2 linked regions of the Homo sapiens genome follow. The protein of the gene in region 1 interacts with the protein of each later gene in a pairwise test. Each region holds a gene or a part of one and is shown on either strand. Other genes may lie near its edges. The genes, in order: MICALL2 and CDR2.

Region 1 (3,816 bases):
CCACTGCCGCTGTTCCCAGTTCTCAGCCCAAAACTGAAGCACCACAAGCAAGTCCCTTAGCCAAGCCGTTACAGTCCTCGTCTCCCCGGGTGCTTGGCCTCCCTTCGAGGATGGAACCGCCAGCCCCGCTGAGCACGAGCAGTACCTCTCAGGCATCCGCGTTGCCCCCGGCAGGCAGGAGGAACTTGGCGGAATCCTCAGGGGTCGGCAGGGTGGGTGCTGGCTCCAGGCCGAAGCCAGAGGCCCCGATGGCAAAGGGTAAAAGCACCACCTTAACGCAGGGTGAGTAAGGGGCTGGGAGGCAGGAGGCCCCGGGGGCCCGCAGCTCTGGGACTCTCCCCTGGCCGCACTCTGCAGTGTGTGCGGTTTCATCATCAGCCCCGCCCGCCTTCCTCTCCGTCTCATCTCTGTCCTCCGTGACACCTGCTCGCAGCCTCCTGGGGTCCTGGTGCGCTCTCTGTGTGGTGGCTGCAAATGTCCTCAGGGCTATGCTGTTTGCCGGCACCCAGCCCACCCCATCCGCACGTCCTGCAGGTGCCTGCAGCCCAGCCCTGCAGCGTCCCGCTCAGCTCGGTCTGGCAGTTACATCCTGTGGCTAGCAGTGGCCTGGCTTGGCCGTGGTCTGTGGGGCCTCCTGTTCTCCCGTGGTGTTTTGCGCTTCCTGCCTGTCGCTTTGACAACGTCGCGCTGTTGCTGTGGCACCCTGTGTCACCACATACCGGAGATGGTGCCCTATGCCCCGTCCCCCCTGTGGTGTCCCGGTGACGGTGCCCTATGCCCCGTCCCCTCCGCTGGTGTCCCAGTATGCCCTGTCCCCCTGGTGGTGTCCAGGTGAGAGCGCCCTGTGCTCCGTCCCCCCCGGTGGTGGTCTGGTGACGATGCCCTATGACCTGAGGGCTCTGGTGCCTCCTAGGCTGGGAGCTCTTCCTGGGGGCTCCCTGGACCACACAGTCCTGTTTTATGGCCTCACGTGTTTTCGGGAACAGGGAGCGAGCTTTCTTCTAGGCAACTGGCTGTCACCCACCAGGGGTTAGCCCCCTGGGTGATCATGGCCAGGCTGGGCAGGACGTGGGCTTAGGGCTTGTGAGGCCAACCCTGTGCCAGCTGGGAGGCCCAGGGCACTGGGATGGCCAGGCTACGCAGTGAGCTGTCAGCTGTGCCAGGACAGACCCCAGGCTCCTGGCGGCCCTGCTTTGATGCACGGCTCTGTCTCCCAACCTGGGGGCAGCCGAGTCCCCCCGCCTCGCCCCACTGCAGGAAACTGGCTGTCCCTGCCACCTGGGTGTGTGTAGAAAAAAGCTAGAGGTTCCCATGGCTTTATCGAGCTGGGCTCAGGGAACAAGCTGGGCTGCAAAGGGTTTTTCCAGATCCTTCTCTTTGGCTGAGTTCTCATTGTTAAAGCCACGCGCTGGATCCTGCAGGACCCAGGAGCCAAGAAAGCCTGCAGACGGGCAGCCGTGGCTCAGGTGTTCCCCTTGCACAGGTGGACAGAGGATCAGGGTCCACGGGGCTCACCCTGCCACGTCCCCACCCATTCGGCAGAAGGGGAAGTTGAGGCCCAGAGGCAGGGAGAGCTTCCCCCAGGGACACACAGCACAGGAGAGCCAGCTGGGAGCCCCTCCCCTGACTCCCTGCCCGGTGCTCCTGATGCCCCCCGGCCGGCTGGCTGTGGGGGTGTCTGAGGGTGGAGTGGCTATGGGAAGATGGCAGGGGGAGGCACAGCCACCCTTGCAGACACCCCATTCCCAGCACTCCTTCCTCACACCCAGACCCCTTGCCTCCCACCCAGACATGAGCACCAGCCTCCAGGAAGGCCAGGAGGACGGGCCGGCAGGATGGAGAGCGAATCTGAAGCCCGTGGACAGGAGAAGCCCAGCTGAGAGGTTAGGGATGGGTGGGGCTGGCCCAGGGCCTGGTACACCATAGGTGCTTAATAAATGCAGTGAGTATGTAATCGACCGATTGACACGCCTATCCAGGGATAGACGCACCTCCCTGTGAGTAGCAGAGGCCAGGTCACCCCTGCCTGAGGGACATGGGGGCCGCTGTCCCTGGTTTGGGGGCAGCGTTGCGTGTCTCACCTGGGCATGGCAGCACCCGTGTGGGTTCACGCACCATGCCTGCAGCTGGGGTGGAGTCTCCCCATGTGTGGGTCCCGTGGGGCCCGGAGCTCACGCCTGGAATCTGCTTCGCACCACGGCAGGTAGCGATGGACACGTGTGTTTGCAGGAGGGTCCCAGCAGGTGTAGTCAGTGGGCTGGGAGGTGGCATTTGCTCAGAAGGCCACCTGCTCCCTCCGGCTGGTCTGCATATGGCCTGGGAGCCCCTCCAGGTGGGCCAGGCCCTGGGGCTGGTGGTTCGGGTTCCGACCTCATGCCTTCTGCCCAGGACTCTGAAGCCCAAGGAACCACGGGCCCTGGCAGAGCCGAGGGCGGGGGAGGCCCCCAGGAAGGTCTCAGGCAGCTTTGCTGGGAGTGTCCACATCACCCTGACCCCCGTGAGGCCTGACAGGACCCCACGCCCAGCCAGCCCAGGACCCAGCCTCCCAGGTACTCCTGGACGGGACCCAGGGGCCCCCGGGTTGCCTAGCTGGCCCTCCCCCTTGGGTGGGGGCCCCGGGACTGGACCTGTAGTGCCACCTCCTGGGGTGTGCGGAGAGGCGCTCCGGTCAGCCAGAGAAGCTGGTAGTCCTGGGCAGGCTTGTGTGTACATGTGTGCATGTGTGTGATGCATGTGTGCATGTGTTCATGTATGTGATGCCTGTATCCATGCGTGATGCATGTGTGCGCATGTGTACATCTGTGTTCATGTGTGTGATGCATGTGCACGTGATGCATGTCCATGTGTCTGTTCATGTATGTGATGTGTGATGCATGTGTATTCATGTGTACATCAGTGTTCATGCGTGTGATGCATGTGTACATGTGTGATGCGTGTCCATGTGTCTGTGTTCGTGTATGTGATGCATGTGTGCCCACACGTGATGCATGTGTCCATGTGTACATCTGTGTTCATGTGCGATGCATGTGTGTCCATGTGTACATCTGTGTGATGCATGTGTGTGCAACCGTGTTCATGTATGTGGTGCATGTACCCATGTGTGGATCTGTTTCATGAATGTGATGCATGTGTGTCCACGTGTGCACCCGTGTTCGTGTGTGATGCGTGTGTGTGCACACACATCTCTGTGTGTATTCCTAGCACTCATAGCTGCCCTGGATCCATATCCAGCTCTCGTGCCACTTCCTGTGTGACCTTGAGCAGCCAGCAGCCCCGTGGGTTAGCCCCCTGGGGAGACATGGCCAGGTTGGGCAGGACGTGGGTGTAGGGCTTGTGATGCCAACCCTGTGCCAGTCGGGAGGCCCAGGGCATGGGGATGGCCGGGCTACCCAGCGAGCTGTTGGCTGTGCTGGGACAGACCCCAGGCTCCCAGTGGCCCTGCTCTGAAGCGTGGCTCTGTCTCCCCACCTGGGGGCAGCCAGGTCCCCCTCCCCACCCCGCCGCAGGAGACTGGCCGTCCCTGCCAGCCTCGACGTTTGTGACAACTGGCTTCGGCCGGAGCCCCCTGGCCAGGAAGCCCGAGTGCAGAGCTGGAAGGAGGAGGAGAAGAAACCTCACCTTCAGGGCAAACCAGGTCAGCCCCAGAGACACCGCTGCTGTTTGGGGTGTACGTGAAGGGAGCCTTCCTCTGAGGAGGCAATGCCTGCTGGGGCTTTGGAGGATGCATTCACAGGACCTAGAATGGAGGGAAAGCCTGGAGGAAGGACCCAGCCCCGTGCCCCAGGCCCGCCCTCATGAATAGAGACCCTAGCTGTT
Region 2 (3,816 bases), on another chromosome or scaffold:
TCCAGGAGGCAGAGGTTGCAGTGAGCCGAGATCGCACCACTGCCCTCCAGCCTGGGTGACAAGAGTGAGAGACTCCATCTCAAAAAAAATAAATAAATAATGACAAGAAAAAGACTAATGTCTCTTAAATGCTTTGAGCTATTTGTAAAAGTTCTGTGTTTTGTAAATACAAGTTATTTCATAGATTTAATGGAAGTCTTTATTTTTTATTTTTTTATTTTTGAGACAGGGCCTCACTGTATTTTTGGTAGAGATGTAATTTCACCATGTTGCCCTGGCTGGTCTCGAACTTCTGAGCTCAAGCAGTCCATCTGGTTCACCCTCCCAAAATGCTGGGATTATAGGCATGACCCACTGCACCTGGCCTCTAAAGTCTTAATGAATGTAATGACTAATAGACATTGTTAGTTTTGAAATCACAAGAGAATGTATTTTAGCACCTATCTACCAACAGTATACTGTTTTATTTTAAATGGGTGTAAAATGTTTTTAAATGATCTGGAGTTGGGTGTGGTAGGTTTTGCTGCTTTTTCCAGAGTGAAAACTAACCAAGTAGAATACTAATTATGCACTTGAGTGGACATTACAACAACTAATGCTGTTGTTACCATTTACTCAATGCTAAGTTTTACTATGAGTAGTGGTGGATAGCCATTAAGCCTTATTTGTCAACCTCTAAAAATTAAGTTTAAAAATCATTATGTAGTGAGTTTCCTTGTTTTTATGATAAATTTTTTTCATAATACTTTTATGACAATAACTGAGGCTACTTTCCATCATACCTAGAATAAAATTTAAACTTTACCTACCATGGGCTATAAAATCCTATATGATCTGATCCCTCATGCTTCTATCATACTGGCTGCTTGTCAGGTTGTAGAATATGCCAAATTCATGGCAAGTTCTTCATCCTTCAAGCTTCAGCTAAAAGGTCTTGTCAGACCTTCCTTATGACCTCCCTTTCTAAATTGGGCCCTAGGCTGGGCACAGTGGCTCATGCCTGTAATCCCAACATTTTGGGAGGCTGATGTGGGAGGATGTGTTGAGGCCAGAAGTTTGAGATCATCCTGGGCAGCATTGTAAGACCCTGTCTCTACAATAAATCAGTAAGTAAGTAAGCTGGGTTTGGTAGTGCATGCCTGTAGTCCCAGCTGTTTGGCAGGCTGAGGCAGGAAGATCACTTGAGCCCAGGAATCCAAGGCTACAGTCAGCCATGAGTGCACCACTGCACTCCAGCATGGCAACAGAGCGAGACCGTGCCTAATAAAGAGACAGAAAAAGAAAGCCCTTTGTTCATTATCACCAAATCCAGGTTTTTCTCCCCCGCTTTATCTTTTAGACTTTATATTGAATTGGTCAACAAATCCTTTAGCTTTACTTTCAAAACATGTCAGAATTCTGCCCCTCCTCTCCCATCTTCATCTCTGCCACCCTGGTCCAAGCCACCATCATCTCTCACCCAGACGATTGCAGTATCTTTCTGTCACTCTGCTCCCACCTTTGTCCCATTCACCCTGTATAACAGCAGCCGGAGTGATCCTGTTAAACCTCCATTGGATTCCTTCATTTGGAGTAAAGGCCAAACTCTTGACCTCTTTAGTTAGGCCCTCCGCAAACTGGCCATCTTGGAGCCCCTCTGATTTGAGTCTTCCCCCTCCCCTCCCTGCCCAATACATTCTGCTCCACCCTCCTCAGCCTCCTTAATGACTCAGTCATGCTTCCTCCCAGGTGCTTTGCACTTGCCTTGCCTCTGCCTGGAGTGCTGTTTCCCTGATGGATACACATGGGTCACTTATTCTGTTCCTTCACACATTGATTCTAATGTGGCCCTGGTCACATGTTCTTAAATTTCAGCCTCCCACATCCACACTCCTCCTGTACTTCTTCCTTGCTTTATTTTTTTCTCTTTAGCATTTATCGCTATCAAGTTTTATTGTGCTGTTTCTCCCAGTAGAATATAAGCTCCATGAGGGCAGGGATATTTTTTTAATGTGAGTTCCTTATGGCTCCTGGGCACCATCCCAGTGCCTAGAATAGTGTCTGATATTATTGAGTATATGCATGCATGCATGAATACTGTTTATCACAGTATGTGAGTTTAGTTACTCATTTGTCTGGCTTCCTCCACTAATCTGGGAATGTCAGCAAAGCAGGACTTCATTTTATTCACTGTTCTATAGCTAATGCTTAGCATAGTGCCTGGCAACAAAAACATTCATTTGTGAATCAATGACTATTAATAGTACTTTGCGTGCGTATTGCAACTTAGTTTGTAAAGTACTCCTTTATGTATTATTTCATTTGATTTTCACAATCTTATATTGATAAGACAGTCATCTCTCTAAACAAGAATACTAACTATAGGGGCCTTAAAGTCACCATATTGAAAGTGTTCTGGTAAATGATAGAACTGGGCCTGAGACTTACCTGCCCAGAGTGCAGTGCATTTCCCACTGTATCAAAGGACTGCTCCATAAGATTTACTATGCAAAGAAGTATTTCAATGACGTATGTTACAACTAGTGTCCTTTCTTATATTGTTAACTAAATTTTCATTTCTGGGAGTTGAGTATAATATAAACAAATCCTGTTTTATGGGCATTATACCTAAGAATAGAGAGAGTTGAAAAATGAGGTTTAAAATAAAATATGGTTCTGTGCTAAATGGAAGTATGAGCTACTGACATGTAATTACCTCAAAAACCACATTTCTGTTTTGCTTTTCTAGTTGCTCATCTTACAGAAGGACACGAAGAGAAGTAGAGTGACCTGGGGCAGTGTTCTTAATGCTGATGTATTTTTCCTTTTCTTGACTTAATAAATTTTAGTCCCCTTAGGAGTCCAGGATATATGACAATAAACTTTAACAGTTGTATTCACAGCAGGCAAATTCATGGGAACTTTAAAGATTTTTGAAAGCTCCACCTATACCTTGGCTCAAGGGTCCATTCAAAAAAGTAGACTGTCAGGATATGAATACATTCATTGTACTAGCAAATAGGATTTTAGAAGTAACACTGCGGAATGATCATTCCTGAACAAATAACTGCATCTCCATAAAGTAGATGACCATTTTTCACTTCTTACAAGTATGGGTACATAAGAGAATACATTACCTGCTGGAGGCGTCAGTTTAACTGAATTTTAAGTAGAACTCGGGTTTCCTTCTGTGCCACTCCACCTTCCATTGGGATGTGACTTAAACTACATGTTCTTTTTTGAAGGACTGGGTTATATAAATTGTTGATGTGAGATCATTTGTATTATTCTAAGATTCATTTGTTGTGCTAGATCTTCAACTTGCTGCTGAGCTTGGGAAGACATTACTGGATCGGAACACAGAGTTGGAGGACTCTGTTCAGCAGATGTATACAACCAATCAGGAGCAGTTACAGGAAATTGAGGTAATTCACTTGGCAGGAGAGTTACACTTTTGACACTTCGATGTGTTGCTGTTATGCCAATCACATACTGGTAAAAAAGCACTTGCAATTAGATGCAGCATTTTATTTTTTAACACAAACTTTTTTGAGAATGAGAACCGCCTCCCGAGTAGCTGGGATTACAGGCGCCTGCCACCACGCCTGGCTAATTTTTGTATTTTTGGTAGAGATGGGGTTTCACTGTGTTAGCCAGGCTGGTCTCGAACTCCTGTCCTCAGATGATCCACCTGCCTTGGCCTCCCAAAGTGCTGGGATTACAGGCATGGGCCACCACACCCGGCCTAAAACATGCAATATTTAAGATATACAGAATGGGGTAAGAGAACAATACAGTGAATACCCATATATCCACCACCTAGCTTAAAAAAGAAGA

What was found.
Region 2: the proteins of MICALL2 (region 1) and CDR2 interact in binary tests that used the Homo sapiens proteins (3 or more experiments, as listed by UniProt).

The regions. Positions count from the first base shown.
Region 1 is NC_000007.14:1,438,658-1,442,473, reverse strand, and holds part of MICALL2 (MICAL-like protein 2), read left to right. Parts: coding exon 1-282; exon of another isoform or gene 283-1,311; coding exon of another isoform or gene 1,312-1,789; coding exon 1,790-1,883; intron 1,884-2,388; coding exon 2,389-2,549; intron 2,550-3,478; coding exon 3,479-3,634; exon of another isoform or gene 3,635-3,816. UniProt on the Homo sapiens protein: Effector of small Rab GTPases which is involved in junctional complexes assembly through the regulation of cell adhesion molecules transport to the plasma membrane and actin cytoskeleton reorganization.
Region 2 is NC_000016.10:22,364,490-22,368,305, reverse strand, and holds part of CDR2 (cerebellar degeneration-related protein 2), read left to right. Parts: intron 1-3,291; coding exon 3,292-3,404; intron 3,405-3,816.